3 linked regions of the Homo sapiens genome follow. The protein of the gene in region 2 interacts with the protein of the main gene of each other region in a pairwise test. Each region holds a gene or a part of one and is shown on either strand. Other genes may lie near its edges.

Region 1 (10,620 bases), on a different chromosome or scaffold from region 2:
AGAGAACATCTTCTACTGAAAGTTGAAGATTTTTCATTTTCTAGCTGAATTATGACAAAGGGAGATGACCATTAAGTGCCTGCCAGCATACTGGGACGTACACCTAACACTCTGAAAACTCAATTCATGCCAGCACATCTGTCTTCTGCTGCATCTAGCTCAGCATCATGTATGTATTTTGGGCAAAACTAATCATTTCACACCCTAGACTTTAAAGAGACCCAGAATCTAATGATAGCTAACATACCCACCCCCTCTAACAGGCTTTGGCGTATTTCCTGTGAGAAGCAGTTACTGGAGGCCGAATGGATTCCACTCATCCACAGCACTGTGCATGCAACAGCCAGATTAGGCCCCGGTGGGACTGCGTGGCCCACTGCTTCCTATGGGCTCCAGGGCTGCCCAGCAGGGATGACCCGGGAGCCGACAAGGGGGAGGCCAGTGGGGGCGTTGGGACGGTTTCCTTGACCCTGTCTCAACCCAGAGAAAGAAGCCTGCAGGTGAAAAAGGTCTTCGTGAAAGGAATGAAAAAGGAGAGGGCTTTAGGGGAAGGGGCTGCCTGGTGGCAAAGCCAGCGCCTTGTGTCCCCAGGCAAACATGACAGAGTCTCGACGCACAGGAAGAGCCAGTCCGTCTTTACTGGAGTGAGTGCGGGAGACAAACAGTTTACAACAACCTTTAGCATTGTCTTCACCATTTGATAAAAAGTTCACTATTATATTTATTGTATAATGAAGAAAAACAACACATTCAGGGAAAAATTGAGATTAACTTATTTTTCTTAAAAGGTTCATCTCAAGGATGGCAACAAAGTCCAGCTTGTGCCGCCAAACGGTTTTACATGATCAAACCGTGTACAGCTTCTTGTGTGAACTGTTGACTACAAACATTTACCAAATACATAAATCTCTTTTAAAAAAGCCATTTTAAATATAGCAAAGCAGTGTCTTCTTGCACAGCAAAGTGAAGAAAGTTTCTACAGAGAAATAGAAGTTTTACATTTGTAAAATCTTTTTCACATTCTAATCATCTAGCTTAAGATCCAATGCCAGGAGTTTTCAGCTTCCTTATTTACTATGTATTTCTTGTGCGCATGATGGTTAATACAGAAATTATGTTGATGCATTACTAGTTATCCTTCTAGTTAAAGGAAAGGGTAAAACATGTATTGTTCTTGTAGAACAAACCCCTGATTTAGTCTATAACAAAATGGACATAATTGGGCTCAAAAGATGGAGTTTTGATTGGGACCACCTGTGTACACACAACAGTGACTTCCACTCGCGGTGGAGTGGCCATTAGAGTACTGAGGAAGGACAGCTGTTGGAAACTGTACTTTAACCAGTGCAATTTAAGCTTTTTTTGCTTTTGTTCTTTAGTAATAAAATACTTCTGGAGGGATAAAATTTTCTTGCAATGGTGTCTCATACAAAACACGAGTCTAAAAGGGTAAGAAAAGACGGTTCTAAAGCAACACCATTAGCGTCGTCCCCTCTCTAGGCTGGTTTCCACCCAGAGATGTGGATGTGGGTGTGTTCACACGTGGGCGTCTGGGTGAGAGATGTCTGTCAAGTCCATATGCTCCATGCCACACTGGACGTATGGGAAAAAGGTTAACAGTCAAATATTCAGTTCCTGAAATGGAATACATTGTTACTTGGTCAGTGTAATTTAAATACAAACTCCGAGCCTTGAGTAGTAGTATTTTAGAAAACAGTAGTTGTACTGATTATAAACCTGCATAGAAAGAAAGACTATTGAGATACAGTCAGAAAAGCCATCTCATAAGGCACACAAGAAAATAGACAGTAAATGTGAATGTGTTAACTCCTATTCCAATGTACAGCAGAAGTTCATGAACATGCATAAATAATAACGAAGGAATCACTTAACACTTTCAAAGCTATAAATGGTTTACAAAGTGGTAAGGATTATTTTGGAACTTCAGTGTTGGGAGACTGTCTTGTTTGGATTAGGTGTGGCCTTATGAAGAAATGTGCCTGTAAGTAGTTCAGTAAAGTAAGTACATTTTTAAAGAAAAATCCTTTCTGAATAAGAGCCTAATGTCTATACTGAAGAGAGGAGACAGCATGTCATCCTCCTTTTTTTGGCCTCTCTCAAAAGTTACTGCCCAAACTGCCATGAGAACAGAACCTCCAGTTTGCAGCCTGTGGTGCGCAGGTCTCTCCTGCACTGATCATACCTATGTGTCAGTCAGGAAATCTGGCTGATGACTTGTCACAAACAGCAGATGAGGAAAATGTCAAAAGGAACGTAATTTGGGGGGGGGGTGGGGGGGGGGGAACAAAATGTACATAGAAATTGTAGGTAGCTGCTCAATATCATTTAAAATATAAAATAGCAATTTTTAAACCCTTGAGTTTTTTAGGAAAAGGAGTATTTAAAAATCTACAATGAAAGATATACAGGACTTTGAATTTTGCTCATGGCACAAGCCCAGTAAGTGGATGAACTTGCTATCATCCATTAGTTGTCTTCCTGAAAGAATAAGGCCTTGTTCAAAATCCAAGCTGAGGGTGGCACTAATTCCAATTAGAATGGCAAGAGTCATGCCAAGGACCAGCACCCTAAGAGTGTTTCTCCCCGCATACCAAAGCATCACTGCAATGTGCAGAAGAGCTGATAACGGTAGGATTTTGTAACCAGCTGCATCGTTCTGTTTTCAGAGGGTCAAGGAAAAAAGATCCCTTTCCCCATGATTATTTTCCCCTAATCATTTACCACTTATAAAACCTTTGTGCTCATCTACTATTTTGCCATTTTCTCTAATATTAATTAAATTAGGTCAGCTTTTTCTACTACATTTTTTCCTCACAAAAGGCAAGTTTTAAATAATGCCTTACAAAATCTGTTACAACACATTTTATACTTATGCAGGATGAACTTAACACCAATTTTTTTTGCCACTTTGCTATTTATGTACACATACAAAATATATAATGATGCTCAACCCATACAGCACAAAGATTACAATGTAACATCACACATTCACCACCAGTGAGGGGAGAAACCCCTTTATACAATCCTCTGAAAAAACTGGGCTAATAATTAAAATCCAAAGTACAGTATATTTAACAAAATAGTAAATATTAAACAGTGAATACTTAATAAAGGACCTCGCCTTTTCCCCCCAGATTGGCGGCAATCCACAAAAATATACTTTTTAATCTGGTGACCATACAATACATAGGTACTTACATCAAAGGTGATAATATATTTAAGATGCTATATACACAAAGAGTTTGGCTCAACTTTTAATTTACATTTAGAATAAGTGTTCATGGCTTTTTTTTTCCAAGGTTCTGCTTGCAAGATATTTTTGTTTTCCCCTCTTAAAATAAAACTAAAGAGTTAAACCAAGATAAAGCTATTCTCTAAAAAAAAGTTACAACATATAGCTTTGGCTTATATAAATAATTCATAGCAGAATGTGTTCAAAAGTAGTGAATATAATTTTATATATAGTCATCAATTCATAAGGGTGTTTTCTTTCATATAAAATATACATGAGCTAAAATCAGTTTCTTTAATTTTTAAGATATGAATGTAAAAAGAAACTTCTGACATATTCCAATTATAACTTAATATATTAATTTTACTTTGTTAATGCTCTATATTTCTAGGCTAGTATTTTCTGAATATCTCATGCGTGTTTTCTATTCTCTTTCTTTATTAGCTAAAGATCACTTCTTGACCCAATACATTTTTGCACGTGCAAAACAGTTATGTGTGGGGCTTTTTTGTTTTGTTTGTTTTTAATATCAACAGCCCTTTCCCATGCACCCCTTTGCAACAGACACCCATGCCAGGTTGGAAAATATAAATGACATTTTATGTACAGTATTGCTTTCTTGGTTCCTGCTTTTCTACTGCTCTGTTCTACAAAGCATTTTCTCTTAAGTAACTACAGTCACTGCACAGTTAAATAAAACAAGTAGGGGGCCCTCTAGGTTTCTGCAAGCTAGTGTGGGAGAATTATATATGGGTACACGTTTCTCTGCAAAAACTGGTTATCTTTACGAAACAAGTAGTCCAAGGAAGTGCCAGACTTGTCTGTGCCTACAGGGTGCTTTGTCTGCCATGGGACACACATCTGCAGACCTACAAGGAGTTTGCAGGTAAGTGCCTGATTCTGTGTATGTAACACACACCCACACATACACACTCACACCCACATACATATATATGTAAAGGGATATATATATGTATGTACATATAAATATATTTAACTCATGTCCTTATTTACCGATTTAGATATGTAGGGCAGGTCACTGCAGTAACACAAAAGTACAAACATCAGCTTGGAAGCCTTAGGTCACCCACGCGTCCATCCTCATTCGCTTTACAGAAGGGCTTTCTCTGTCCTCAGTGTTTGGGGGTCGGCCAAGCACAATTGGAGAATGGAAGTCGCCCCGTGGATCCTCCCGATCACTGCCATCATAGGAGCTACTAGAGCTGCTCAGACTGTCCACAGGGGAGCGCCCCATTTCCTGTCGGGGCTGGGGCTGCGGGGGTTGTGGCTGGGGCTGCGGTGGTGGCGGCGGCTGCTGCTGCTGCTGCTGCTGCTGCTGCTGCTGGAAGCCCGATGGGGTCATACGATCCCGAGGAGGTGAAATCGGTTCGGACTTGATGCTGATGTTTTGGTTGGTATTAATGGATAAATTGGAACCCTGAGATAACTGCCCTCCAGCACTGAAGGAAAAAAAAGAGAGAGGTCAGATGGCTTGCAAGTACCTCTGCAAAACTGGGATGATACAGTAGAGACACTGCCTGATGGAAAAGGGCCCAGAGTCTGAAATCTTATCAGAGTTCCCCAAGACTGGTTTGGGTCGTTTCCTTCAGTGCTTGGCACAAAAGGAAATCCCATCTTCCTAGGAGGAAAGAAAACAGTACCGTTGAGCCCTTACGTTACTTGGTTCTGTTACCCACAACGTTGGTACTTTTGCAGCTAAAGTATACAAAACAATGTCAGTGTCTTAATGCTGTGCAGGGACCAGAAAGACAGAGGAACAGCAGCCTCATCTGCTCACCGCCTCTTCTTCCTCAGCATCTGCTCCCCATCTGCTCTGGCCCTGTGACAGGGCACAACATCGCTCATCCTCGCAACACCTCTAAGGTGCAAGTCGCACCATCCCCATTTTCCAGATGAGGAAATGAGGGGCTGGCTGAGAGCAGTAGAGGAGGACGCAAACAGGCTGTTCCCCGGGCCTGGGCTCTGAGCCCTTTCCACTTGCTTTTCCAGGACTATTTTTAGTGCATTCATTTAGGATGCTCAGGACAGGCCTGAGGGCCAAATCCTGTGTAGGCAAATTTCCCTGAGATACTCTGCTGCTTTTTCCATGACATAATTCCTAAGAAGACCACTGACAACAATCCTCACTGTGCAGTTACTTCAGAATGGATGAGGGAAAGGGACTGCTGAGCTCAGGCTCTCTGGGGACTTCCTGGGCAGAGGCTAGGGGCCTGGGGTATTCCTACTGCCCAGAGCACAGGCAAGGCAGCCAGTCTTCATGGAGGCCAGCTGGGTCTGCTATGTTGTCCCCTCTCTTGGGACACTCTCCTCCAACTGCTCCATGGGTCTGCTGTCATCCTGGTTCCACAAAAGCCCTGTTCTTTCTCCCGGCTGTCAGGGATGTCTGGCCTCATCTGGGCGCCACTGTAAATCCTCTTTGCTTATATCCTTACACCCTGCCCATACGGAACATTCTCTTTGTGAATGAGGTTTGGTGTGTGCATTGGGCTGGGATCAGTCACACAAATCCTATGGAGCCTGACTGATATATAAGACACCCTGTCCCCAGTTTTCCTTCCCTGTGGCCCAGGGAGAAAGCAAAAGCTCCAGCTTGTCTTCCTATTCTTGTCTACAGATACTCACCAAAGCAGTCAATGGCAAGGGTGGCAGGGAGGCCTGAATGCCTACAGGCTGCCTTTCAAGCAGTGCAGCCAGAGGCAGGTGCTTGGGAGCAGGGGTGCAGTAGGCAGCTTCATCACTGGTCAGAGGGCAGAAGGATGGTGCATGCGGGTGGTATCTGTGCCTTCAGACCCCTTCAGATCCTGGTTGAGTCTCTCTACCTCAGGATGTCCCTATGGGAGAAGCCTTGCTCCCCAAATCCCTTCAAGGAATGCCTAGTTTGTCAGTATCCAAGCTACTGTCTAGAGCCATGTAAGAAAATATTTTCTCCCGACACTTGTATCTACCTGAAAAGGAATCATTACAGGATTCCTCACACGAAACTCAACAGAGCAAAAGGCTGTCACTGATAGGAAAAGAGAGTGTGTAGGCCAGGAGTAAAGATGCAGGGAAAACTTCTAGTTACTCACACAAGAGAGCTGAGGGCTGCTTGTCCTAGGTGGTGCTGCTGCCAGGCCGACACCTGTCCCAGCGACAGCATTCCTGGCGAGTTGAAGCCTTGAAGGGCTGACAGGTCAGCGCTGGTCAGTGAATAATCTACAAAGGAAGACAAGAGGGCTCTGCATATGATGGAAGGTCCATACGGAATCTATTTTTTACGTAGCTACTGCAAAAGTTCCTACATTGAGGCCAGCCATGCTGGCTCATGCCAGTAATCCCAGCACTTTGGGAGGCCAAGATGGGCGGATCACTTGAGGTCAGGAGTTTGAGACCAGCCTGGACAACATGGTGAAACCCCGTATCTGCTAAAAATACAAAAATTATCCAGGCGTGGTGGCGCATGCCTGTAGTCCCAGCTACTTGGGAGGCTGAGGCAGGAGAACTGCTTGAACCCGGGAGGCAGAGGCTGCAGTGAGCCGAGGTAGCACCACTGCACTCCATCCAGCCTGGGCAACAGACTTCCTCTCAAAAAAAAATAAAATAAAAAGTTCCTACATTGAGAGAAGCCAGATACTTCACAACAAAACAACATACATGTGGGTCTAAAATCCGCAAAATCTTTTCTTGGAAGATTTACAGGATCTAGCAATATTTCTTTGTCTGGGATGATTCAAATAAGAGGCCATCATTAAAGAGTGTTCTGTACAATTGTTACTTTAAATATGCCTGCCACTACCCTTTGGAACAAAGAGAAACACTCAACCTCAACCAGAGTGAGTTTGAATCAGCAAGTCTTAATGAAGCAAGGGGTTGGGGGACAGGGAATAGGGGACAGGAAAGACAGAATCCCTACATGGGGTGCCAAGCTCAGTGACATCATTACACAATTAGTAAGCGCATTTGTTTAAAGTACCTAGACTGTCGCAAACTCCCTGACAGCATGCAAGAGTTTCAACTTCATGAAAAAACTCGGTGTCCTAGAGTATACCCAGCTCATATCATATGAATGCTTCAGTCGTAATCACTGGGACCAAGATTTAGGACGTTAGTTATCACTCACACGGGGAGTTATTTCAGCTCATCATTAACACTTGTCTTTCTCACTTGGTTCCAAAGAGAGGTGGCAAAACTCTTCTACTTTTATCTTCTTTCTCATGTCTCAAGAGAGGTGTTTAAAGAAATTGGTCTTCCTAGTGAATTAACATTTTAAAAAAGGAACGGAGTTGAAGCGACACAGCTGGTGCTCAGGGCTGTCCTGACTCTGCCCTTGTCATTCTATACACTCCCATGGGCTGGGGCAAGGACCCGTCACACTGACGCCTTCCCCAGTGCTCCCTCCGGCCCACAGTCTCCTTCGACCTCTAGATCTTTTAAACGACCTAGTGCCATGTCCATTTGGACGCCACTCCAAACGCCACACATCTGACATGGCCCATCCTTTCCTGCAAACCTGTTCCTCCTTAAGTACTCTTAGTACATGGCACCAACATGCACCCAGCAGCTCGTGCAGAAGCCCATGGGTGTTATCCTTGCTACTTCCCTTCCCTCTCACTCCCAACATCAATTTCCAGGTCTGAGCAATTCTATCTGCTCTCTCTCAAGCCTGCCCAGGTCTCACCATCTCTACTGCCACCTCTCTAGTCTATGCTATCAGCACCCATTGCTTGGACCACTACAGTAGCCTCTGATGTGGCTTCCTGGCATTGCCTTTTAACCCTATATACAGCAAAGACATCTTTTTAAAATAACAAATATGGTCATGGCACTCCTCTACTTCAAAAGTTTTTTATGGCTCCCCAATGCTCTCCGGACAGTTTCCAAAATCCTTGACATAGTCTACAAATCATTACTTACCTCTCTAGTCTCAATTCTAACCACCCACGCTCTGTCCCCATTCCTTCAGCCCCGTCCCGCCCGCAAACTCCTAGCCTTTGTACAGGCACACCCTCTCCCAAGAGCACTCTGCCTCCTCTGCCTGGCTGAGTCACGCATGTTCCTTCCTGTCCGAGCTGAGACACAGCCCTTGACACAACTGCAGCAGCTTATCCCTAGAGCTGTGTGTCTTGTGCCTTCCCCCCAGGCTTCACTGCTGACTGCACTCCTGCATTTCCAGTGCCTGGCACAGTGCCTGCCACACAGCAGCTGCCTGATAAATATTTGCTGAATAGATGTGGAAATAAGTTAAAAACAACATGGTAAACTTCAAACAGAGTAAGTGTTACGAGAAAGAGAAGAAAGATAAAGTCGGTCAAAAGGTGGCATGAGACTGACGCTAAGCGACTGATGATTTTGAGAGCCTGCCTCCATTTTTATATGCTTTGGTAATTTCTTTTATACTTTTAAAAAATAAATTCCCAATTCAATGGCATTTCTAAAAATAAGTATAGTGGAATTTCTAAGTATACTGAAAAACCTGTAATGAAACGGTCAGTAAACCATAATCTGACACCCAGTTCAAGCTCCCTCTTCTCAGCCAATACACCTTTGAACAGTATAGCTTTGCCCTCCCTTCTCAATTCTCAGAGTATAAATTCACAATCACAACAATTCAGGACTTCCCCTCCACGGTTACCCACTTAGGTATGTCCTGCCTCCTCACTTGGAATAAACTTGGAGAAAGCTATGTCCCTAGTACAGTCTCTCACAGAGCAGGTGATCAATGCGTCGAAACAGAATTTCTATGAATGCTTCATCCCTGGCTTTACTCTGGAACCTTGTTCTGTGCAAGGCACTAATAACAGGCTATGATTCACAATCCCTAAGATAGTATGCAGTTGACAAATTTGGGCATTATTTTTCATACTAACGGTTGGAAAAGTAATGGATATTTCCTAAGAGACTTTTTTTTTTTCAATAAAACCTTTTATTGTTGATTCTGTTTTAAAAGAACTTCTTAGAATTCAAGTGGCAATCAAATGTTATCAACGCTCTGTCCCCTCACGTAGCTGCGGACAGCAGTTTCAAAGTTCTGTGCCAAAGCATTTACCCTGAAGGCTAAAATCAGACCATCTTTACCACAGTCTACTTATGACACTCAGGAGAATCATAATAACTTCTCTGCATTGCAGTCTCTGAGTAATGGGCAAGGGAGAATTGAACTACTGCCGTCTTCCTCTGAAGCATCAGGTGTTTGGCTCAGCTGATGAGAAAGCGAAACCACATGTGTTTTCCACTCCTTCTTAGATTGGTAAATTTAAATGAAACCAGCTGCCCTCGATTCTCCATACAGTCTGCTTGGCTAAAAGCACTCCTACGATCACTGTAATATTCTTAAACTTTCCTAATACAACCCCAAATTAGGGCATTTTAAGATGAAATGCCTAAATAAACATAAATGAAGGAAAAGCTCCCCTCAAAGGCAGAGTGACTGGCTCCGAGGAGAAATCAGAACAGCCCTTGTTTTGCCCCTCAGGTGCACATGACATGGACCAAGCTAGTGGTTACAGGGAGGAAAACAGCCTGTTCGACACAGCCAAACGTCGGCCACCTCCTGAAGTCTCAGGTCCAAAGGGATTCATGTCTTTCCCAAAGCAGGTTAACACAGCATAAAGACAAACATCTTATTTTAAAAGCCTGGAAAAGCGTGATACTGTATGAAGAGAAACTACATCAGCAATACTCAAGCAACAGGCTGCTCCCCTCTTGGCTTGATGCATGTCACCATTTTGCTATCATCCACGTGGCTTTGTGTCAGGGGTTAAGTGAAAGTTCACACTGGAGAAGCCGGAATAACTTACTCATCGCACTATCCACACTATCCATTTTGTTTGTAATTTTTTCAAGGCTAGCACATTGAAAAATACATCCTAATTTAAATCTAAAAAACTGGAAATAGTTTATTTCAATAAATATACTTAAAAAAAATCACAGAAGCACACGTTGATCACAAAACAGAGAGCGGTAAAACCTACGGAAGGCACCAGAGCAGGCTCACCAGTGTTGTAGGCAGTCGGCATTGCTGAGTACACAAGTCCTTGCGGAGGCAAGCTTGGGGTTGTCACAGACACGACTGGGGTAGCAAGAGGTTGAGTGGCTTGAGAACTACTGATCCTCTGGGTATTCTGTGAGATCAAAAAAGAGAAAATGTGTTCTGATGTGGTATTTATGTTGACTTAAAAATCACTTTCAATTTAAGTGACATTTTTCACAGTTTCATATGAATGTCATTTTCTGAAGCACTGATGATGTGAAAACTTCAAAAATACTAGTGAGAATAACTAAATATTTAATTTGAAGGGTCCTATTTTTACATTAATTCTTTTAAAATAGTTGATTAGTGTCAGACACCCCACGTTAAAATAGGAACT
Region 2 (10,620 bases):
TTCTTTTTAAAAAAGGCTAATAATGCTTCAATAAATGCTAGTTCCCAGTATAGTGACAGATACAATGGAGTGAGGCAGTCTGACTCTGGCCATAGTTAACAGATCAAGGAAAAAAATCCCACACTCCTAAGATTCCAAAGAAATTTTCTGCAAGTTTCCTTAATGTACTTTAAAATCCTTCAGAAGACCATGGGGAAAATAAATCATCCTCTCAAATTCATATTCTGAAGTTTGAAAATAAAAGCAGTTCCTTTTCATGTTTGGATATAGTCACTCTGAACAGTAAATCAGCTAACAGACATCAACCTGGCATAAGACTCTTCATAACCTGTAATTATCTTCTTTATTTCCCTGTTGCTCATCTGTCTCCCCTGCTAGAACATACACTCCATAAAGTCAGGGATCTTGCTGTCTGTTTTGCTAGCAGCCATATCCCCAGCACATAAAACAGTTCCTGGCACATAATGGGTATTAAATATTTTCCCATCAGTGATCAGTTCGTTTAGCAGACTGTCCAAAGTCAAGTAACTAGAAAGCAAGACGAACAAGGGCAGCTATCTGTAATCAAGCAGCCAACTTCAAATGTTTTCCTACAGAAGCTAAGTCCTAAAGAGTTTTTCTTCTCTCTCTTCCCCTCTTATTAATATTCCTCCTTTTCCCAGCTATCTTTCCTGCCTCTAAGAACAGTATTCTAAGAATTAAGAAACTCACTTGTATCACCAACTCGCTGAGTATCCTTGGGCTAGTCAGGCAATTTCAATGCTTATCTTTAGTCAAAAGACACTGGAGTCATTCATAAGGAGACAACACTTGCCTGGTGTGAAGAACGAGTAGCTGCAAGACAAAATCCTAGCCCTCCCAGAAATTAGAGTAAGCCAGACAGAGGAGGGAGGTAACACAGCGAGATAAATTCCATGGCAGAAGTATGCACAGCATGCCATGAAAATACAAACACCTAATCCCTCCAAGAAGGCAGAGGAGGGCCAGGAGCGGTGGCTCACACCTGTAATCCCAGCACTTTGGGAGGCCAAGGCGGGCAAGATCACGAGGTCAAGAGATCAAGACCATCCTGGCCAACACTGTGAAACCCCGTCTCTACTAAAAATACAAAAAAATTAGCTGGGTGTGGTGGCACGCACCTGTAGTCCCAGCTACTCAGGAGGCTGAGGCAGAAGAATCGCTTGAACCTGGAAGGCGGAGGTTGCAGTGAGCCGAGATCGCACCACTGCACTCCAGCCTGGCGACAGAGCAAGACACCGTCTCAAAAAAACAAAAAAAAGATGAAGAAAAGAAGGCAGAGGAGAGGAGGGTCACTTTCCAGAAGAAGCCCTTGCCCTTGAGGGACTAATAGGAGCCACGAGAAAGGAACAGGGAGATTTCAGATAGAGGCAAAAGGGCTTACTCACAGGAAGCAGTTTCACGTTATGTGGACTGCAGGGTGTGAGCGAACATGGAAAGTAAGGCTGAAGAGGTAAGCCGGAATGATATTCTGGTAATATTACAGATGTAAACCTAGAAGAAGATGAGATTAGAGGCAGGGAGCAGTTTAGAGATTATTTTAGCAATTAACAGGAAAATTAATGGAGACCTCGTAAGAGAGGAGTTCCCAGGACCTCTTCAACCTATTCCACCCTTTGCCCCAGGTGACCACGCTCACTCAAAGCTTCAAGTATTCTCTATCCAAGTATCTCCAGCAGCAGCCTCTCCTGAGCTCTAGAACCATATACCCAACTTTCTATTATTTATCTCTTCTTCGAAATCTCAGAGCCTTTAAACTCAACGCAGCCGAAGCTAAGCCTATGAGCTCACCCCAGAACCTAGTCCTCTTCCTGTGTTTCCTGTCTCTGCAGATGGCAGCACCACCCATCCGCTTGTAGGAGCTGGAAACCTGGGAGGCACCCTTAGTGTCTCCTACGTCCTCTCCCTCATCCGCTGTTCAATCCATCACCAATCCCTGCCAGGCTCCTCCCCTAAGGATCTCATACGTCTATCCACTGCTTTCCTCTGTGGCCACCGTCAGAATTTGCCTTACCCCTATCTCTTGCCTAAGCCAGTGCACCAGGTTCACATCCTCTCCTATTACTATTTCATCTCTTATTCCCTTCCAGTCCATTCTCAAACTGTGACAAAAGTTTGTTTTTAGTGCTCATCAGCCTGCGTCACCCTTTTATGCCCGCCTACTCACCCCGAGGAGCTCCATCAAGCCCCTCTTCACTGGTGTTGCTCACCATATGTGCACCAGCACCTTATTTCTGAAGGAATGAGGACTCAGGTTTTTTTTTTTTCTTTTGAGACCGAGTCTCACTCTGTTGCCCAGGCCAGAGTGCGGTGGGATGATATTGGCTCACTGCAACCGCCGCCTCCCAGGTTCAAGTGATTCTCCTGCCTCACCCTCCCGAGTATCTGGGATCGCGCACCAGCATGCCTGGCTAATTTTTATATTTTTAGTAGAGGCGGCGTTTCACCACATTGGCCAGGCAGGTCTCAAACTCCTGAGCTCAAGCAATCTGCCTGCCTCAGTCTCCCAAAGTGCTGGGATTACAGGCGTGAGCAACCGCCCCTGGCCAGGACTCAGTATTTGAGCAAAGGGAGGCAAGAATTTTAAGAATTTGTAAAAAGTCAGTATTGCATGGCATAAAGAGACTAAGGTAAAGACTAAAAAAGACTGAACTTGCCACTAGGATATCATTTAGTGACCGTGTCTGGAACAAATTCAACAGAGTTGTGGGAGCAGAAATCAGAGGACAGCAGATTAAGAGGGAAAGGGCAGAAAGGGAGTAGAGGTGAGCTGGCCTTCTTCCAATAACGTGGATGGCAAGGACGATACAGTCTAATGGCTGGAACAAACACAAGATTTAGGGAAGGGTTTGTTTTTGTTTTAAAGTTGGGAGAGACTTGTATAGGAGCACATGATGAAGGGAAAGAAGCAGGAGAGGAAGAGGAGGGTATCAGAACAGAAAGAGATCTGTGAGCACCAACAGAACAATCTGCCTTCATTTCCCCTGAAGGAAGGAACATGAATGGTGATGAATTCAGAAGAGCTTGCAGGCAGGGAAGCAACATGTGGTTCTTTTATTTTCTCTAAGATATAGAGCAGATTCTTCCAGCTCCACAAGAAGGTCCTCTCCCACTCACTCTCTCTTTATTGGACAAAATATAGAACCAAATACTGTATGCACTGTATCAAACACCAAGAGCGCAATGCTTGATGTCCACTGTGAGTTCTGGAACTTTACCTTGTTCCCTACCAGTATCAGCCCTCTTTTATTGGTATGAAGCCTCTAATAGAAAAAAGCCTCCCAGCCTGGTCTCCAGAAACTGGTGTTAACTGCTCCGAATTTTGAATTCAGCAGAGCTGTGCTAGAAAACTGCACATAAGGTTTATACTGAGAATGACAGCTATTTTCCATTCCCTTTACTTTCTAGTCGGTAGAACTTAAAGCCTGGCACAGCTGCTATTACATATTCCTTAAACAGCGAACCAGATCATTCTCGTGGGTGATTTTAAGCATTAGAGAAGAGGTCATAACTTTTCAGCAGGAAAATAAAACAAAGGTTCTTTCTGGGGTCAGCCAATAGTTTATCAGTGGCTCATCAGAAAAACAATAGTTTAAAAGGACTTGCGTAGTTAAGAATGGAAGAACATGGGTAAAGAAAAAAACTGCTGACATTAAAATAGAATTTTAAATTAATCTCTTGTCGCGTTAATAGTACTGCCATATAATGGAAGATGCATTTATTTTCTAAGGGGAAAATGTCCAGAAACTTGCACTCATCACTCCCTTAACTGTTATCAGGGAAGAAGTGTAGAGTCTCCCAGCTGGATTATGGGTAGTGTAAACATCTTTGCTAAATTGCTTGGCAGAGTACATCTGCATCAAACCATTAGAGTCTGGAATTCACTCTATTAAAATCAAATCATTAGCCAAGAAGAATTAACAGGAAACTATTTTCATGCAAAACAGATATAAAATAAAAATCAAGAGCAATACATGAGTAATTCTTTTTCATTCACAATTTTAGATGGTGCATAATGCAGAGTATTGTTTTAGAAACGTGCTGCTCTCTAACAGCCATCTCTATACAATATAGGGTATTGTTTGGATACTGGAGCAATTTAAGCTTTTTCTATGTATCCAAAAGTCCCTGGATTAAGATCCAAAGAAACCTGGCACAGCAACAAAGTTGACTTGTAACACATCTCAGCCTTTAAGCAAATTGTTTATTAATGCAGCAGGAAAGTCGCTGTTCAGGCCCTAAGTAAGCTATGTATCTCCGGAAGTGTCCCCCATGTTGCATTCTCCAAAACTGTGCAGAATTTTCTCCTAGTTTTCCATTACACCAAGGATGGTGGGAGGGCTTCAACAGGTGATGAAGAATGTGAACAAAATACTAACTGAAAAAAAAGTTCTTCCCAAAGTATCACCAACTCTGTTTAATAAACAGTGGAGCTACAGATGAATGAGAAGGGAAGCTGGGACATATATTATCTGTATATAATGTCTGTATATCCCACAGCCAAGAGTTCTCACACTCAAAGAGACGCTGGCTTCACATGGAGAAAACAACCTCTCAGGATGTGTGCACTACTTTAAAAGATCTCACAAAAAAGATACAAAAGAAGGCATACAGGCATCTCCCTATACAGGGTAAAAAAAAAAAAAAAGCTAGAATTTGTTTAGAATTAGACACATGGTAGTAAAGGTATAAAGAAAAGCAAGTTACAACTGTGGTGAACTCTTGGGGCTGGGAGGGATCTGATCAAAAGATAATACCTGGAAGGGGCGATTTACTATTTCTTGACCTGGCCATAGTCACCGGGTTGTTCATTTCTCTAACCATAAAATACACATTTTTATACACTTTTCTGTATGTATATTTCATTATAAAACATGTTGAGAGATCGATCCCTAATACATTTCTTAGTAGAGTATAGGCATTCCATAAATGTTTAATAACAGAATGGATAACAAAATGGTACTAGTACTAAGTTTTCTCTAATCACTTACTAGATATATTTCAGTTTGTCATGTTTACAGACTTCTTTGCAAACAAAAGAGTGAAATATTAAGAGTTTGGAACGATCCTATGCATAGCAACACATTAAAGAGGACTTTTAAGAATAGATTCTCTATTTCATTTAGAGTAAATAAACATTCTTTCAACTAGTCATGATTCACATTGATAGGATTAAAACATTCTATACATAATACCTTGAAATTAAAACAATCAACAGAATTAAACAACAATGCAGAAAAGGCAAGACAGCAAAGCAAAGTGACAAAAATAATTCCTTCGAACTTACAGAACATGTAACATTCAGAAAGGAAAGGAGAGCAAATGAAGAAAGCAAAATCATTTTCAGGTCCTGCTTTTAAAAATAAGCAACCACGGTTAGGATTTTGTTGTGGAGTTGGGGGGTGGGAAATGACACATGAGTTCATTAAAAAATAAAAGACGGAGAGAAAACTGTTTTGGAATACAATGCAGAGCAAGTCTTAAAAAACAGTTGCCATGAGCTTCAATGTGCAATAATAAATACCACTAAATAGAAACCGCCACTGAATAAACGTCAGATACTTTGAGATGACAAAGATCGCCAGAAACATTCCCTGGTCCGACTGTTTTTATATATTTGTGTACATGCGTAAGTGCTAAATCTGGATCTAATTTCTTCCTGAAAAAATCCAGTTTTCTGCAACATCCTCACAGTCAGGGAGAACTAAGCTATATTGAGAAGTTTGGAATCTCCTCACGTGCCAAGGAGGATTGCTTTCTATCTTTACCGCATGTTTTAAAAAATCTTCACAGCAACACATCCAGGCACCCTAGGAATACAAGGCCACGCAGACAATAGGGAACGGAGGAAGGAGGGAGGAAGACAAACCTGGCCTCCAGAAGGAGCCAAGTGTAGGCTCCAAGAGATAAACAGCCAAGTACAATAATCTTTCGAGAAGCGGGCTGAGAAACAAGGGTGGGAGCTGGAAGGAAGGGTATAATCACACCTTCCTTCACAAACTGTAATTAGGAGAAAGACACCAGCCAGGCCAGCTCTCTCGCAGAGCTCCTGGGCTCACCTGGGCATGTTTTACTAACCAAGCTCCTCCTAGTTTCTTTCTCTCTCTCTCTGTCTCCCCCTTCCTCCCTAACCCCCACTGGCCCCCACTCCCTATCCTTTCCTGCAAGTAAAAAGCTAAAGTAAAATGACTTTCCACAGCAAAACAGTTACAGATGTTCTACCTCGGAATACATCCCAGATCAAGAGCTCGTCACTTGATATGCAGGGCTGGGGACCAGGAGAGGGTACGAAATGGCCCTGCGCTGTGGCCTTTTCACCTACCCAAGCCTCCTAAGTTTCCTGAAGGTTCTGAGCTCATTAGACAAAGAACAATGAAGCCAGGACTCCACTCAACCGCTGGTGGTTAGACTGGTGGAAAACAAAAGATCACAGGGTCTCACTGAACTCAGCAACTCTCCAGTGTGCGTCTTCCCTTCCATTCCAGAAAATTAATTTAAAAGTTGCCCGTGATGAAACAAGGGATAACTGTGCCTAAAACAATGAACCGTTCTAAAGCTTGAAGTCGGAATAATTCGCTCTTAAGCTTTGAGAGGATCACACTATGCAATGTATTCCTACTTTCTCCCAATATAAATCACGCTATTAAATTAAAAGGAGAGAATTCTTCCACCAAATTACACACTAATGGCTCTTAACCCATAATTAAAGTATCGCTACCAGCAGTGTAAAGCCCCAGCCAGCCAGGGCTCAGACCCAGGTCTCAGCCCCAGGGATGATGTCAGTGCAGCGACAGCGATCTTGAGGAAAGCCCGTGGTCTAACCTGTCCCTGTCCCTGCTCCCTGGGGACTGGCTCTGGAGCTGGCATCCACGCAGGCCTCCTCCTCTGCACAGGCAGACAAAAGGAAAGCAAGCCCAGTGCCAGAGCAGCACGAAGAGCACCTTCCAGCGAGGCCGGTCACTCAGAGGTGTCTCACCTACCCTTTCCCCAACATCACAACAGCCTCGGAATTTGGACCAGCAACTGGCTTCAGAGCAAGGAGAAGTGGGAGAGGCTCCACTGTGTGCTGTAATCCAGGGTGTTATCCCCGTGCTAGGCCGTGAGGGCACCCAGGACGGGGCATGACCCTAACATCACGGAGCTAATGAGGAGATAAGACATGAAATAAGCCCGGCGCGGTGGCTCACACCTGTAATCCCAGCACTTTGGAAGGCCAAGGCGGGCGGATTACCTGAGATCAGGAGTTTGAGACCAGCCTGGCCAACATGGTGAAACCCTACCTCTACCAAAAATACAAAAATTAGCTGGTCATGGTGCAGGGCACCTACTGTAATCCCAGCTACTAGTGAGGCTGAGGCAGGAAAATCACTTGAACCCGGGAGGCAGAGGTTGCAGTGAGTGGAGATGGCGCCACTGCACTCTAGTCTGGGCGACAGAGCAAGACTCCGTCTCAAAAGAAAAAAAAAAGACATGAAATAATTCTGGAGAGGCAGCACGGCATAGAAGATTCATAGAAGAGTCAAAACTCAATTCAATCCTGCCACAAACTTTCTAAATAAACTAAATCAACTCTCTGAAAAACAGAGTTTCCCTCTCTGAGCCTCACTTTCCTTGGTGAAAACAAGGCAAAGGTATTAGATGATGTCTGAGGCCCTGGATAGCTCTGCAATAATTAGATAGAGAATACAAGGCAGTATATAATCAAGTATTAAATTATACAGGAGCAACTACAGCTGCCATTGAGAGCTTGCACTGATTTTTTTTTGAGTCAGCCTTCATTCTAAACCACTTCCTGAAAGCCCACTCAGACCCTGTGCTAGGATTCAGGGATGCAGCGGTCACCAAGACAGAATGCTCTGCCTTCACGAGGCTTTCGCCAGTCTAGTAAGGTATTCTCAGGTGTTCAGAGGAGGGAAAAAATGAGGGCTGGGGTTGGCCTATGACCTTTGCATGGAGACAGAGGCAAAACTGGGCTTCAAGTGGGTATCATCTGAGCATTCAGTGGGGTGATGGACGCAGTGGTTAATTGCTGAGTACGGTAGTAATAAGCCATGAGGTTCTGAACACATAGCACAAGCCCAGTTCTACTAATCCGCTCATCATTAGTGAAGGGAATTAGTTAGCTTCCAGAAGTCAGCCAGACTTCGATTCTTCCGGCCCTCTCCCTAACGTCTCCTTCTCCCACCCCAAACCTGCTAATTGTGGTTAACTTTTTCCCTTTATTCTTTTCAGTTATTCTTGCAGACAACTATGGTGGAGGGCAGGAGCCAGGAAGCAGTTACCAAGGAGGGAGTCCACATCTAAGCAATATGGAGTCAGTCAGGAAGGAAGACCTTGTATGCTACAAGGTAAACGGCTAAAAAGATCGATTTGCGTATTAAGTCACAAGAGAGGTTTAAGAAAGACAGTACAGGCTGAGTGCGGTGGCTCATGCCTGTAATCCCAGCACTTTGGGAGGCTGAGGTGGGTGGATCACCTGAGGTCAGGAGTTTGAAACCAGCCTGCCCAACATGGTGAAACCCATCTCTATTAAAAATACAAAAATGGGCCGGGCATGGTGGCAGGCACCTGTAATCCCAGCTACTCAGGAGGCTGTGGCAGGAGAATGGCTTGAACCCGGGAGGCAGAGGTTGCAGTGAGCCAAGATCGCGCCATTGCACTCCAGCCTGGGGGACAAGAGCGAGACTTCATCACCAAAAAAAAAAAAAAAAAAAAGACCAGACACATGGTTTATTTTAGAGTAGAGCTATGTCTCATACAACTAAGGAATATGGTATAATTTAGCTGGTAAGAATAATTAACCATCCGCATCTTAATTTTTAAAACTAAAATGTCATAAAATTAATTTGTCCCTTATTCTTAAGGGGCATGAAACTTGACTGTGCCCTAAATGAAATCAAATGTTGCCTACCAACAGTACATTCCATTTTCCAAACAACTTCCCTGGAATGCTGGGGAGCTGATATGTTTAAAACGAATATTCTCCAAGTCCAAGTGTTGGATTTTAAAGAACCATAACCTTTCCAACTTTTCCTACAAAAAAATCCCGTGTGTGATTTATGCCCATCTTCAAAACACCCTCTGGAGTTCAGACCAGATGTGTGCAGTGTTTACACTGAGAAAACCACTAGGACATCAACAATTCACTATAAACACCACTCAAATTTTGCTGTGCTTTCCTTCATTTCCTCTGTATTTATTCTGGTGTTAAAATAATGTTAACTCTCATAATAAGGAAAATAGGAGCAGATGTTTAAACCAAACAGACTTCAGCCCATTATCCCATATAGCTACTCAATCTTCAAAATCAAAGTTTCTTCCTCCCAAATACCGAGAGAGAAGAGCAGAGCAGAGCACTCTAGTTTCCTGGGTGTTGCATGCTACACAACAACTCGACCTGGGCTCGCTGTCCGTAAGTTGGTCCTCACCAATCGGAGACAGGAAAAACTAATCTGGTATCAATTTCCTAACAATCTTATATTTCTCTCTTAGGCCATTATGTTTTGTTTTTAAAATATCGTATTACTTGTTGGCAAAGACAATACAACAGAAATTGCCTCAGAAGTTTTTCTTTCTTGTTGGGGGAAGCGGGGATGGTTAAAAAAAAAAAAAACAAGAAAAACAAAACCCTGACTACAATGTGTGAATGTCACGGGAAACAAGCCCAGCAATGGCTGCTTACGGCTTTCTAAAGTCGGCTGCCTTTTTTAAGTGAGTTCAGAAGCAAGATGTTACTTAACACATCAGATGCAAAGAAAGAAATTCACGAAAATTCTCATAGCAGGAACTAGTAGGAGTAAAGAAAAACAAATACTCTTTTTAAAAAACGTTAAATATGAGATCCTCATCCATAGAGTTTTAAAAAACAACGTGAATGAGGGTTGTTGTTGTTTTTTTTCCTTGAAGGGGAAAAATACTCTTGAAAGGGTGAGTTTTCAACTGATTAGGAAACAGGCCTGAAGTTTTTAGATTAAAAAAATACAAGTGAATCACCCTCCCAAGTTTTTGTAACTGTTTTCTTTTTCAAGAGAAATGTCCCGTGTATTATTGGAGAAAAAATGGAAACTGCTCCTGCTGAATGAGAAAGAGAAGAGTCCCGGATGTGTGTGTGGTTACAACAGAAAACACTCTTCCTGCCAGGCCGAACTCCCCCGGAGATGCCCTCGGCGGCAGACCCAGGGCCATTGCCACTTTTTCAAATCGCACGTAGAGGATGTCCGAGGGCTTAAGAAATAGATTTTTCTCTGACTGCTACCAGAGACAGTTGGAAATACAAGACAGTGGGGGAAGCACCTCGCGGGCAGTAGGAGGTAATAAATAACAGTTCGGCGCGGCTCTCTCTTTTTCAGGGCAGGCTGGGGGTCGGGGTGTTGTGTAATCGCTCCCACAGGGAGCGGAGCGCGAGGAACACCCCCCAGTGTCAGCGCTCCCCGGGCTGCACAGGAAGCGCCAGCGAGACAAAGAGCCCGCCTGTGCTCGCTGACACGGTGCCCTTCCGGCCCCACGCGGGAGAGGGACATTCTCCGCTGTTTGGGACGCTCACTCGCGAGCACAAAAACTCGCTGTAACTTTGGCTCCCCCTCCGTGAGCTGCAGGGCGCCG
Region 3 (10,620 bases), on a different chromosome or scaffold from region 2:
AAATGTCAGAGCCGAAATTAAATATTCAACAGAAGGTGTGGCAGAGATGCTGCTGTATTCCACTCATCTAATTCACCCTTAACTGTAGGATGCACACTTTATAAACTACCCAGAAAAAACAAAATGTCATCAACTGAACTAAGATACATCCATAAAAGGATGTATGCAGCTTCTTCTACAGTATTACAGCTCTGATTTTATTCAGAACAGCAACTTACCCAACTAAAAAAGTACCTTTCCCGGGTTCCTTACGGCAAGATGCAGCCACACAACTAATTATGGGGCTTCCCAGCAGGCCCCTTACAGGGAGCTAAACTGGCTTCTTTTGATGGTTGGAAGATGGCTACAGTGGCTGGAACTCCAGCAGTCATGACCCTGAGTACAGAAGTCATACACTGAGGACAGCAGATAGAGAGAAGCCAGGTCCCTCATGATGTCAGGAGCACTGGGCCAGCACTGGACAGTCTTTACCTCCAGACTTCCTTGATGTGAAAGAAAAACTATTTATGCCACTGTTTCTTTGGGGTTTGTGTGATATGCACTTGGACACAACCTTAACTAATTCAGAAAAGAGTCAGAATACAAAATTAAGGAAATCGCTAAGAAAACAGACCAAGATTGAAAATAAATGGTAAAAATCGTAGAGGATAAGTCCAAGAAAATAAAGAAATGGTAAACATCATAGAGGGTTCCAACATCATAACAGAGATTCCTGGAAAAGAAAACAGAAAACAGAGGGAAATAAATTATCAAAGAAATAATACGAGTACATTTCCTAAAACTGAAAGACTCATCTCACAGTTAAAAGTGCCTACCAAGTACCTGGCTCAAGACGGGGAAGTAAAACAACACATATCCCAAAGCTCACCAATGTGAAACTGGCCATTAGGGAGAAAGAAGAAACATTACAACTTCCAGAGGAAAAAAAAAAGTTACATAATAAAGGATAGGGAATTAGAATGCTATCAGACTATTTATGTCAGAAGATAATGACAAATGCACTAAAGAATGATCCTCGAAAATCATTTCTAGGCCAGGCACGATAGCTCATACCTGTAATCCCAGCAATTTGGAAGGCCGAGGCAGGAGGATCACTTGAGACCAGGAGTTCAAGACCAGCCTGGCCAACACTGAAAAATCCCATCTCTCTTAAAAATACAAAAATTAGCCAGGCCTGGTGGCACACGACTGTAATCCCAGCTACCTGCAAGGGTGAGGCATGAGAATTGCTTGAACCTGGGAGGTGGAGGTTGCAATAAGCCAAGATTGCGCCACTGCACTCCAGCCTAGGCAACAGAGCGAAACTCCATCTCGAAACAAGACCCTGTCTCAAAAAAAAAAAAGTCATCATTTTCTAGGGAAAATGATGTATGATCTAGATTCTTTATCCAGACTACCAATACCAATCAGTCAAGTATAAGGATATAATAAAAATAATGACATTTCAAAGAAGCAAGGTCATTTATGTACCATGCATCTTTTCTTAGAAGGTACTAGAGGATGTGTTCCCACAAAATGAAGGGGTTATACCAATAAAGAGAGAAATGCAAGAGCTAGGAAATTGTATCAATATAGGGGAGGCTCAGGATGACAACTGTAGGGCAAGCCTAGAGAATAACATGCTCAGGCCGGGCGCAGTGGCTCACACCTGTAATCCCAGCACTGGGAGGCTGAGGTGGGCAGATCGCCTGAGGTCAGGAGTTCAAGACCAGGCTGGCCAACACGGTGAAACCTTGTCTCTACAAAAAGACAAAAATTAGCCAGCCATGATGGTGGGTGCCTGTAATCCCAGCTACTCGGGAGGCTGAGGCAGGGGAATTGCTTGAACCAGGGAGGTACAGGTTGTAGTGAGCCGAGATCGCGCCACTACACTCTAGCCTGGGCGACAGAGTAAGACTCTGTCTCAAAAAAAAAAAAAAAGAATAACACGTTCAAACTGGAGCAGAACAGAGGCAGCCAGGAGAAAGATCTCCAGAAGAAAGGAGAAATTGATAAATTATCTAACAGTTTTGAATATTTGGGGGAAAAAAATTTTAATTTTATATGGTGGTTCTGATGGAGCAATTTGTAAAATTTTAAGAATAGGCTTATTAAAAAATATGCAAGAGCCATTTATTTGCAGGAAAAAAAAGTTGTACAAGAGGTAAAAATGTAATCATAATACCCTTCTTGACTCTTTGTACTTTTGTTTTGTTTTTTGTTTTTTTGTTTTGAGGCAGGGTCTTGCTCTGTCACCCGGCTGGAATGCAATGGTGCGATTTTGGCTCACTGCAACCTCTGCCTCCCAGGCTCAAGCAATCCTCCTACTTCAGCCTCCTGAGTAGCTGAGACCACAGGCACACACCACCACACCCAGCTACTTTTTGTATAGATGGGGTTTCATCATGTTGCCCAGGCTGGTCTTGAACTCAAGTAATCTGCCCACGTTGGGCTCCCAAAGTGCTGGGATCACAGGGATGAACCACCACACCCAGCCCGTTCTTGGCTCTTTGGTGTTCAATCTACATTGTCAAAAAATGTGAACATTACTTTGGGAGGCTGAGGCGGGCAGATCACGAGGTCAGGAGATCGAGACCATCCTGGCTAACACGGTGAAACCCCGTCTCTACTAAAAAAATACAAAAAATTAGCCAGGCGTGGTGGCGGGTGCCTGTAGTCCCAGCTACTCGGGAGGCTGAGGCAGGAGAATGGCGTGAACCCGGGAGGCGGAGCTTGCAGTGAGCCAAGATCACGCCACTGCACCTCTAGCCTGGGTGGCAGAGCGAGACTCAAAAAAAAAAAGTGAACATTTTATGACTTTTACTAAATTAAATAACTTATTGGATATTATTACATTGGGATGATGAGGGGGAAAAGTGATGTAACACAGCTAATTTTTTCTACCATAATGAAATGAAAATATAATGTCTTAATCCTGACATCGAGATACAGCAATATAAGCATATTACTTAGAACTAAAGAGATAAAGCCCAAAATAAACAGCTGAAATTTGCAGTGACTACCTTTGGGGATTGGGATTTGGGTGTGGGGAGGAGTAGGACAAGAATATGATGCTTTTCACTTTTTTTTTTTTTTTTGAGACAGTCTCGCTCTGTTGCCCAGGCTGGAATGCAGTGGCCGCCATCTCTGCTCACTGCAACCTCCGCCTCCCACGTTCAAGCGATTACTCCTGCCTCAGCCTCTTGAGTAGCTGGGATTACAGGCGTGTGCCACCACGCCTGTCTAATTTTTTTTTTTTTTTTTAAGTAGAGATAGGGTTTCACCATGTTAGTCAAGCTGTTCTTGAACTCCTGGCCTTGTGATCTGCCCGCCTCAGCCTCCCAAAGTGCTGGGATTACAGGCATGAGCCACCGCAACTGGCCCTTCATTCTCTTTCGTTAAATAAGGCTCCTGGTATTAATTAACATTTTAACCATGAACATGCATTGATTTAAAAAGAAGACCAAGTAAAATAAAATACTACTTATTTTTCATTCCAGAACAGGTTAAAACTCAAACTTTAGTATGATCAAGACCTTCCAGAACCTAACTCACTCTCCCAGTTGTCTCCTCTTATTCCCTCTTTACCTACGGCTTCAACTTCACTCCAGAGCCCACTTCCTTCTGCCTTTACTACTCATGCACTCCCAGGCCGCAACAGCCTTTCCCATCTCTGCCAATAGATGTGCCCATCCCTCAGGCCAGGGTCCAACTTCCATTCCGCTGGCAGAGCGCAAATGCTAAGTGTCTTAAAGGTCAGGGGCCCTAGGTCTCAGTTCCAACACTTGCCCCTTCTGGAGACAGCCTGCCCCCATGTTCAGCTGTGGATGAGAGCCAGGCTGGGAGCTGCTCACCGGGAGCCGGCAAGCCATCTGAACGTCTATATAAACTTCGGTGTGAATATGCCTCTTTCTAGGAAAAGTAAAGCTTTGAGATTATGAAAGTGGTCTGGCAGTAAATAAAGGGTAAGAATCTCTGCACAAGAGGCATTGAAAAGAGCGTGAGGAGAGCTGAAGGGGAGTGGGGAAGAGGGATGCGGGCAGAGCCACCCAAGCCTCAGTCCGTGTCCTGAGAATACTGGAGGCCTCAGTCACAGAGCCTGATTTCCTGCCCTTCCTCACCGCTGGCTTCATTAGCACTTACTTGTCTGACTCTCTCCTCGCACCCCTTTTCTGCACACACTGGGCCCCCAGGAAGCTAAGCTCCCAGAGCAGCTACTGTACCTCCCGGCCTCAGACAAGACGTTTCAATGGAGGAGGTTCCACCCACAAAATACCTGCCCGGGGTGAGGTGGGAGGGCAGCAGAGGCCAAGTCTACAGGCTGAGCTATCTGAGAAGCTGGGTGGGTGTTTCTTGTGGGGTGGCCTCGCCCTGGGGCAGAGTCAGCTGGGTGACCCATCCAACACTTCCCTCCCCTTCTCCAAGCTCTGTTCAGCCCAACATGCCTTGGACGCGAGCACCGAAGGACCAGCTCCAGGCCCGGAAACCCATGCAGGACTTGTCATTCAAAGACCTGGGTGACAAGGGCGCTCCTAGTCATGTCTTCACTTATCCCCGCAGGGTCCCGTTTGTCTTTTTCTGGAACTACACCTCCTCACCTCCTGAGGGCTCCACTGTTAGCCCGGCTTAGCTGCCATCCCCACCCGTGAGACAAGGCCTCGTTCGACTAGGCCAGCTCTCTGGGATCACCGCCCCGCTCCTCGGCTCAGCTCCAACCATCCCATAGCCATGCTGGGCTTACTCTCCCCTTCTCACTGGTGCCACCTCCCCAAGTTTCTACTGTGACAAGGGCACACTCTGGGCACTCTCGCCCCGTTCTCACTACCACGGACACGCTGGTGGCAGGAAAGAAGGGGTTATCACAGGCTTACCCAGAACTTCACAAGAAAAAAGGCATTGGAGGGTCCCCGTTCGAAGAGATCCTTGAGTCCACCCTTTTTCTCCGGGAATTTGTCATAGATTTGGCGGATGTCCACGGCTTCGAGGTAGGGGTCGCTGTAGCTTGGGCTGGACTGGCCAATGTGCACGAACAGGTGCTTGTTGTACTGTGGAGAGAGTGGGTCTGAGGGAGACGGAGCACAGGCCAGACGGTCAGACAGACAACCCTGGCTCTGCGTGCCCACCACGTGACCTGGTGCAAGCCGCTTGGCCTTTCTGGGCCATAGTTTCCCCATGAGTAAAATAGAGATGGTAAAAGTCTACTCCTTTTGTTTTACATCCTGGACTTCTAAGTAAAGGTCTATTTGGTTCATGGGTTCCTCAGCTAAAAAGAAGTCTGAGCCGGGTGCGGCGGCTCACACCGGTAATCCCAGCACTTTGGGAGGCCGAAGTGGGTGGATCACTTGAGGTCAGGAGTTCAAGACCAGCCTGGACAACATGGTGAAACCCAGTCTCTACTAAAAATACAAAAATTAGCCAGGTGTGGTGGCAGGCACCTGTAATCCCAGCTACTCCGGAGGCTAAGGCGGGAGAGTCGCTTGAACTCAGGAAGTGGAAGTTGCAGTAAGCTGAGATCATGCCACTGCACTCCCAGCCTGGGTGACAGAGTGAGGCTCTGTCTCAAGAAAAAAAAAAAAAAAAAGAAGTTTGAAGATGTCAGAGTGAGAAGGGCCCTGGCATCCTGTCACCTTGGCCTCCTCCAGGTCCCCCTCTGACCTTTGCAGGTGACGCTGGTCACCCAGGACACTGGACACCGAAGGGGACAGGCTGGTATCCCATAGGATATGGAGCAGACACAGGAGACTCCTCAGCTTCCTGCCCGCTTCTCAGAACCAGAGAGAGGCTGGGACAGTGTAGGGGTGGGGCTGGGACCAGAGCAACCTTGGACTAAGGGTCGGTTGGGTTAGGAGGGGAGGAGGAACACAGGACAGGGAGGGAGGAGCGTGACGCTGACTGGGCGCTGGGACACGGAAAGGAAGCCAGGGAGGAGGGAAAGAGGGAAGAGGGGTGACGTGAAGGAGGAAAGGAGGAGTGGGGGGAAGGGCAGAAGGGAAGATCGGAAAGGAACAGGGAACTTGAATTAAGCCCCAGCATGGAGTGGGGCAAGACTGCCGGAAGCAGAAACAGAGGGAGAGGGGGTGACCAGGGAGCTGGACAGGCAGAGGCCAGGACCTACCGTGTCCGGGTCCTGCTGCTGCTCCAGGAAGGCAGAGAACTCCAACATCCAGAGCTTGGAGCTGGCCACGCTGCGGCCCTGCCATGGGGGTGCCGGGGGCGCAGAGGGCGATGGGGCGGGCCCTGCAGGAGACTCAAACCCTGCACAAAGTGAGAAAGGCACATGGAACCTGGTCACGGACACCCGCCCTGCCCGCACCCTCTGCAAGGACCCCAGGCCTCCTCGGACAGACCCGTGCTGCCTGGGGGGACCGCCTGTCTCCCTAAATGGACCTCCTAGCAGAGGTGGTGGAGGGAGTGCCAGGCTTGGGCCAGGGCATCCTGGAGCTGCCCTGGTGGGGAGGGGCTCGCCTGGTACAACTCGGGCCACTCAGCACTCTGCATGGAACCGCCGAGCAAGACTGGATTCTGGAGGGCAGCTGGGGCCCTGCAGGACCGAGAGGCTTCCAGAACAGGCACTGTTAAGTTCCTGCCCTCAAGCAACTTCTGTTCCAGTCGGGGAAATAACCAGATGAATCCACTATTACAATATGGCATCATCCCGGAGAGACGGGGACGTTTCCTGTTTGCATCACATGTGTCTCCCCCGCTCCCAGAACAGGGCCTGGCCCAGAAGAGCCCCTCAATCCAGCGTTGCTAACAGATGAACCTACTCCAGTCCTACTGTAGTTTAGATCGTGTCCTGAAGGCACCAGGGGGCCAGGAAGGCACCATAAACCTGGAAGCAACACCGTGAGACTGAAGCTCTGGTGAGTGACAGGGTGACGAGAGGAGGTGAGACGGGACAGCGAGCCGGTGGAGAGGCTGCTGCAGGAACGCAGGCAAAAGCCAGCAGGCCTGGAGTGAAGACATGGTCAGTGTGGACAGAAGACTGGCATGAGACAGAGGGTGGACGGGACCTGACGCTGTGACTTTGTTTTGATGTGTGAACGAGAGAAAGCAGCCTTCAGGACCTGGGGGACAGAAGGCAGCAGGGCTGCTCTTGGTGGCAGGGAAAGCCAAGGGGCCGGGCAGGCAGACTCCACACCAGAAAGGGCAGTTTAAGAGTGAGGAGCTGGTCTTGTCCTACAGAGTGGGAGGTGGTGAGGGCCCCTCCTGAGAAAGAGACGAGGACAGAGCAGAGCCTGTCAGTGAGAGGGCGGGGTGGGGGCTCCTGTCAGCACCGCTGGCTGCCTCCACCAGGTCTTCTCCCACAAGGGTCCCTCTTCTCGGGAGGGGCTCCAGGCTGGTGAGCTAGACACCCCTCGGCCCTCCCAGGACCAGGTGTGTGAGGCACACTGCAGTAACAAGGCCGGCCAAGTGGGGCAGCCGCCAGGGCACGGGCACTGCCCTTGGAACTGCACGTGCCCCACAAGCCCTGAGCACAGCTTTGAGGGGACAGGAGCAAGGCAACCCGAGGGGCATGAAGGGGCTTGGCACACGGCTGAGGTGTGCATGCTGGGGGAAAGGAATGGGGTGTGGCCAGGGACTAGGACGTGTGGTCAGTGTGCATGACGGGGCAGCATCTAACAGGGACACGCAGGCGTTCGGCTGCCGGGGGCCTGGACCCAGAGGCAGGAGCCACATGGCTGCGATAGAAAGGGGGCCACGCAGCGCCCACCCACCTGGCAGAGGCAGCGGAGGCTGGACAGCATAGGTTTGCTGAGAGAAAGGCTTCACACTGCGGGAGAGAGAGGAGGGGAGGTGTCAGCCTCGGGCAGGCCACCGCCCCGGATCCCTGCACTGGGTCCAGTGGTCTGTGTGGTAGGTCCTGGTGGTCTGGATTTCAGTGGTCCCGATGGGCCTTGGCCTCCTACTCCCGCCCCTGCCGACTCCCCTGGGTTTCGTGGCGGGTCCACAGACACAGCGTGTCTGCTGAAGAAATCCACCCCTCCCTCTCCTCCTCCCAGGCCAGCCAGAGGTCTGCTTCCCAGCCTCCTCCCCTGGGGGACCCCAGCTCTGGCCCTGCCTATACCCTGGACAGACTGGAGTTTTGGCAAATACCACCCTAGGGTGTAGACATCACAGATGAGCCCAGTGATGGCTGACAGTAGAAGAGCCCAATCCCTGAGCTCAGAGCCATCCTGAAAGGCCGACCCCAGCAGCGGCCCCAGCACACCCTGGGGCCCAGGCTTAATGCCATGAGTTTATGGGTTCAAGTTCAGTTCAGGGAGCAACTGGCAAGAGAAACCAGAGGCCATACTCACTCATGGGACGTTCCGGCTTGGCCTGGCAAAGCTCCTTGCCAAAACTGAGGAGGCAAAAGGCATGGAATCAGCACGGCCCCAGGTGCACCCGGGGCCCTGTGGTGTGGGGGTGGGGGTAGGACCGGGCAGGGCCTCCACTGGGAGGAGAGGCTGGAGCCCGAGGCCTCGCCTAGCTAGTGAATGCTAACAGGCCACAGCAGCACCCCCAGAGTGAGTTTCAGGGGGCTCTCAGGCCCTGTGGAGGAGGGGCTCCATGGGAAAAGCACCCAGGTGTGGTCCACACAGCACAGGGCAACTCCTGCAGAGTCACAGTGCAGACCTAAGGCTCAGAAAAGTCCCAGTGCCAAGAACCCACTTAATGCCAAGGGTCCCAAACTTACTCACAGAACCACTGTGTCCTATCTGTTTAACATGCAGATGGACTAGTGCTCTCTGGGACGCACTTTGAAAAATGCTGTGGCCTGGCACTGCCCCTTCCCCACGTGCCTAGGGCGGTGCTGCAGGTGCCTTGAAGACTCATTTAGTCCCTGGAGCCAAGAAAGCCCCTGTGAGGAGACAGCTCTGAAAAGGGGCCTTTCTGGATCATTCTGAGAGTGTGGCCAACATGGTCATGGCTGGGAAAGTTAAAATCTGACCAGGGGTTTGTTTTTGGGGCACCAGCTCTCCACCTGGCAGGAGGGCAGGAATGAGGCTGCGTGGCACGAGCTGCCCAGGTACATGCTGGTCTCAGGCTTCCGCTCAGCCCCCTTGGCTTCAGCTTCCTCATCTGTAAATTAGGCCAACATGGCAGAGCTACCAGGTGGTCAGCTCCTGGAAGCTCCCCCTTCCCCCTTGTGAAGTCTGTGGAGTCATTGCCGAGGACCCCAAGAAAGCCGTCCCAATACCAGCCAAGCCGGGATGTGTGTGGCCCTTGGGTCCTTGTTCCCTCCTTCCCTGACTGCCCTGGCCAAGAGGACTCAGGTGAGAGAAATCTGGGCTGGCCAATGCTTCTGGCTCTTCTGAACAGGGAGGAGGGAGGAGGAGAGGGCTGGCCTGGCCTCCAGCTCTCGGCAGCCCACTTACCCCTGAGACTGCTGGGCGGCCGGGGCCCCGGGCGAGGGCCATGCTACTGTGGAAGGCCGTGGCGGAGATGATCTGTGCAGACGACATGGCAGCCATGCTCTGCAGGGCCTTGTCCTTAGCTGCCTGGTCCTGGGGGAGACATTGCAAGGGAGGACCTCAGCAGGGTCACTAGTCAGGCTGAGGCCAGGCAGGTCCGGCCCTCGGGTCAGGGAAGCTGTCTCGCTGCCAGTGGCCAGAGCTGGGGGACCAGGCGTTAAGTCTGTGCCGTGCTATTAACTTGTTTTGCAACTGAGAAAGTCAGCTGGTTTCTCTGGTCAGTTTTCTCATCTGTCAAAGGGGCATGATACTTGCCCTGCTTCTTTCATCAGAGCTTACAGAGACATTATCTGTCATTTTATTAATTACGGGGCCACCTTCTATGCCTTGCTCACCTCTCTACCACAGGTGCCTAGCTCAGCACCTGTCTTGTGAAAACGATGCATGAATATCTGCTGGATCCCTCCTCGAGTGCACAGGAAGCATCATCCCTGGCCACACGGGCTGTCTGGAGGCAAGAGACCACCTCCTGTGGCCCCTCCTGCCTCAGTCCTGCCCTAAGGATCTCCCTGGGCACTGTAGGCACCTGGGACTCACCCATCTTTCATGTGTCAGAGTGTAAATACCCACTGTCTGCCCTCCAAAGGTTCCAAGACCCCAGAGGATGGGTTCACCCTGAATAGGCCCGGAACAAATAAGCACACAGGGAAAGCCACTTGGATGGCACGGGTAACAATAGTAATCGTTTGTTATATTCATATAAGCCAGTGGTTTCCATCCTGAGTGCCCGAATTCCAAAGGTCTTCAAAACCAATGACACAACATTCCCTATTTCAAGAAGCCTAATGGAAACTGTGTCTTTTTCTTCTTCTTTTTTTTTTTTTTTCCAGAGACAGGGTCTCACTCTGTCGCACAGGCTAGAGTACTGCACAATCATGGCTCACTACAGCCTCAAACTCCTGGGCTCAAATGATCCACCCATCTCAGCCTCCTGAGTAGCTGGGACCACGGGCATGCGTTACTGTACCCAGCAGGGATTATCCAAAATAAGACCACACACACACGGGCTGGAACAGCAAGTATTATTCACTGTCTGCAGCTTTATCGGGGCTAAATGGCTCGACTGAGTCAACTCAGGGGCTCTGATTAGAAATTTGATACCTGGCCGGAAGTGGTGGTTCATGCCTGTAATCCCAGCTCCTGGAGAGGCTGAGGTTGGTAGATCGCTTGAGCCCAGGAGTTC

Evidence for each region.
Region 1: the proteins of VGLL4 (region 2) and MEF2A interact in a two-hybrid assay, tested with the Homo sapiens proteins (one study listed by BioGRID).
Region 3: the proteins of VGLL4 (region 2) and TEAD4 interact in binary tests that used the Homo sapiens proteins (3 or more experiments, as listed by UniProt).

What each region holds. Positions count from the first base shown.
Region 1 is NC_000015.10:99,706,483-99,717,102, reverse strand, and holds the end of MEF2A (myocyte-specific enhancer factor 2A), read right to left. Parts: intron 10,375-10,620; coding exon 10,248-10,374; intron 6,470-10,247; coding exon 6,343-6,469; intron 4,714-6,342; coding exon 4,332-4,713; 3' UTR 615-4,331; downstream 1-614. UniProt on the Homo sapiens protein: Transcriptional activator which binds specifically to the MEF2 element, 5'-YTA[AT](4)TAR-3', found in numerous muscle-specific genes. Also involved in the activation of numerous growth factor- and stress-induced genes.
Region 2 is NC_000003.12:11,632,406-11,643,025, forward strand, and holds part of VGLL4 (transcription cofactor vestigial-like protein 4), read right to left. Parts: intron 1,017-10,620; exon of another isoform or gene 712-1,016; intron 1-711. UniProt on the Homo sapiens protein: May act as a specific coactivator for the mammalian TEFs.
Region 3 is NC_000012.12:3,016,248-3,026,867, reverse strand, and holds part of TEAD4 (transcriptional enhancer factor TEF-3), read right to left. Parts: intron 9,471-10,620; coding exon 9,342-9,470; intron 8,324-9,341; coding exon 8,280-8,323; intron 7,754-8,279; coding exon 7,698-7,753; intron 6,235-7,697; coding exon 6,095-6,234; intron 5,025-6,094; coding exon 4,851-5,024; intron 1-4,850. UniProt on the Homo sapiens protein: Transcription factor which plays a key role in the Hippo signaling pathway, a pathway involved in organ size control and tumor suppression by restricting proliferation and promoting apoptosis.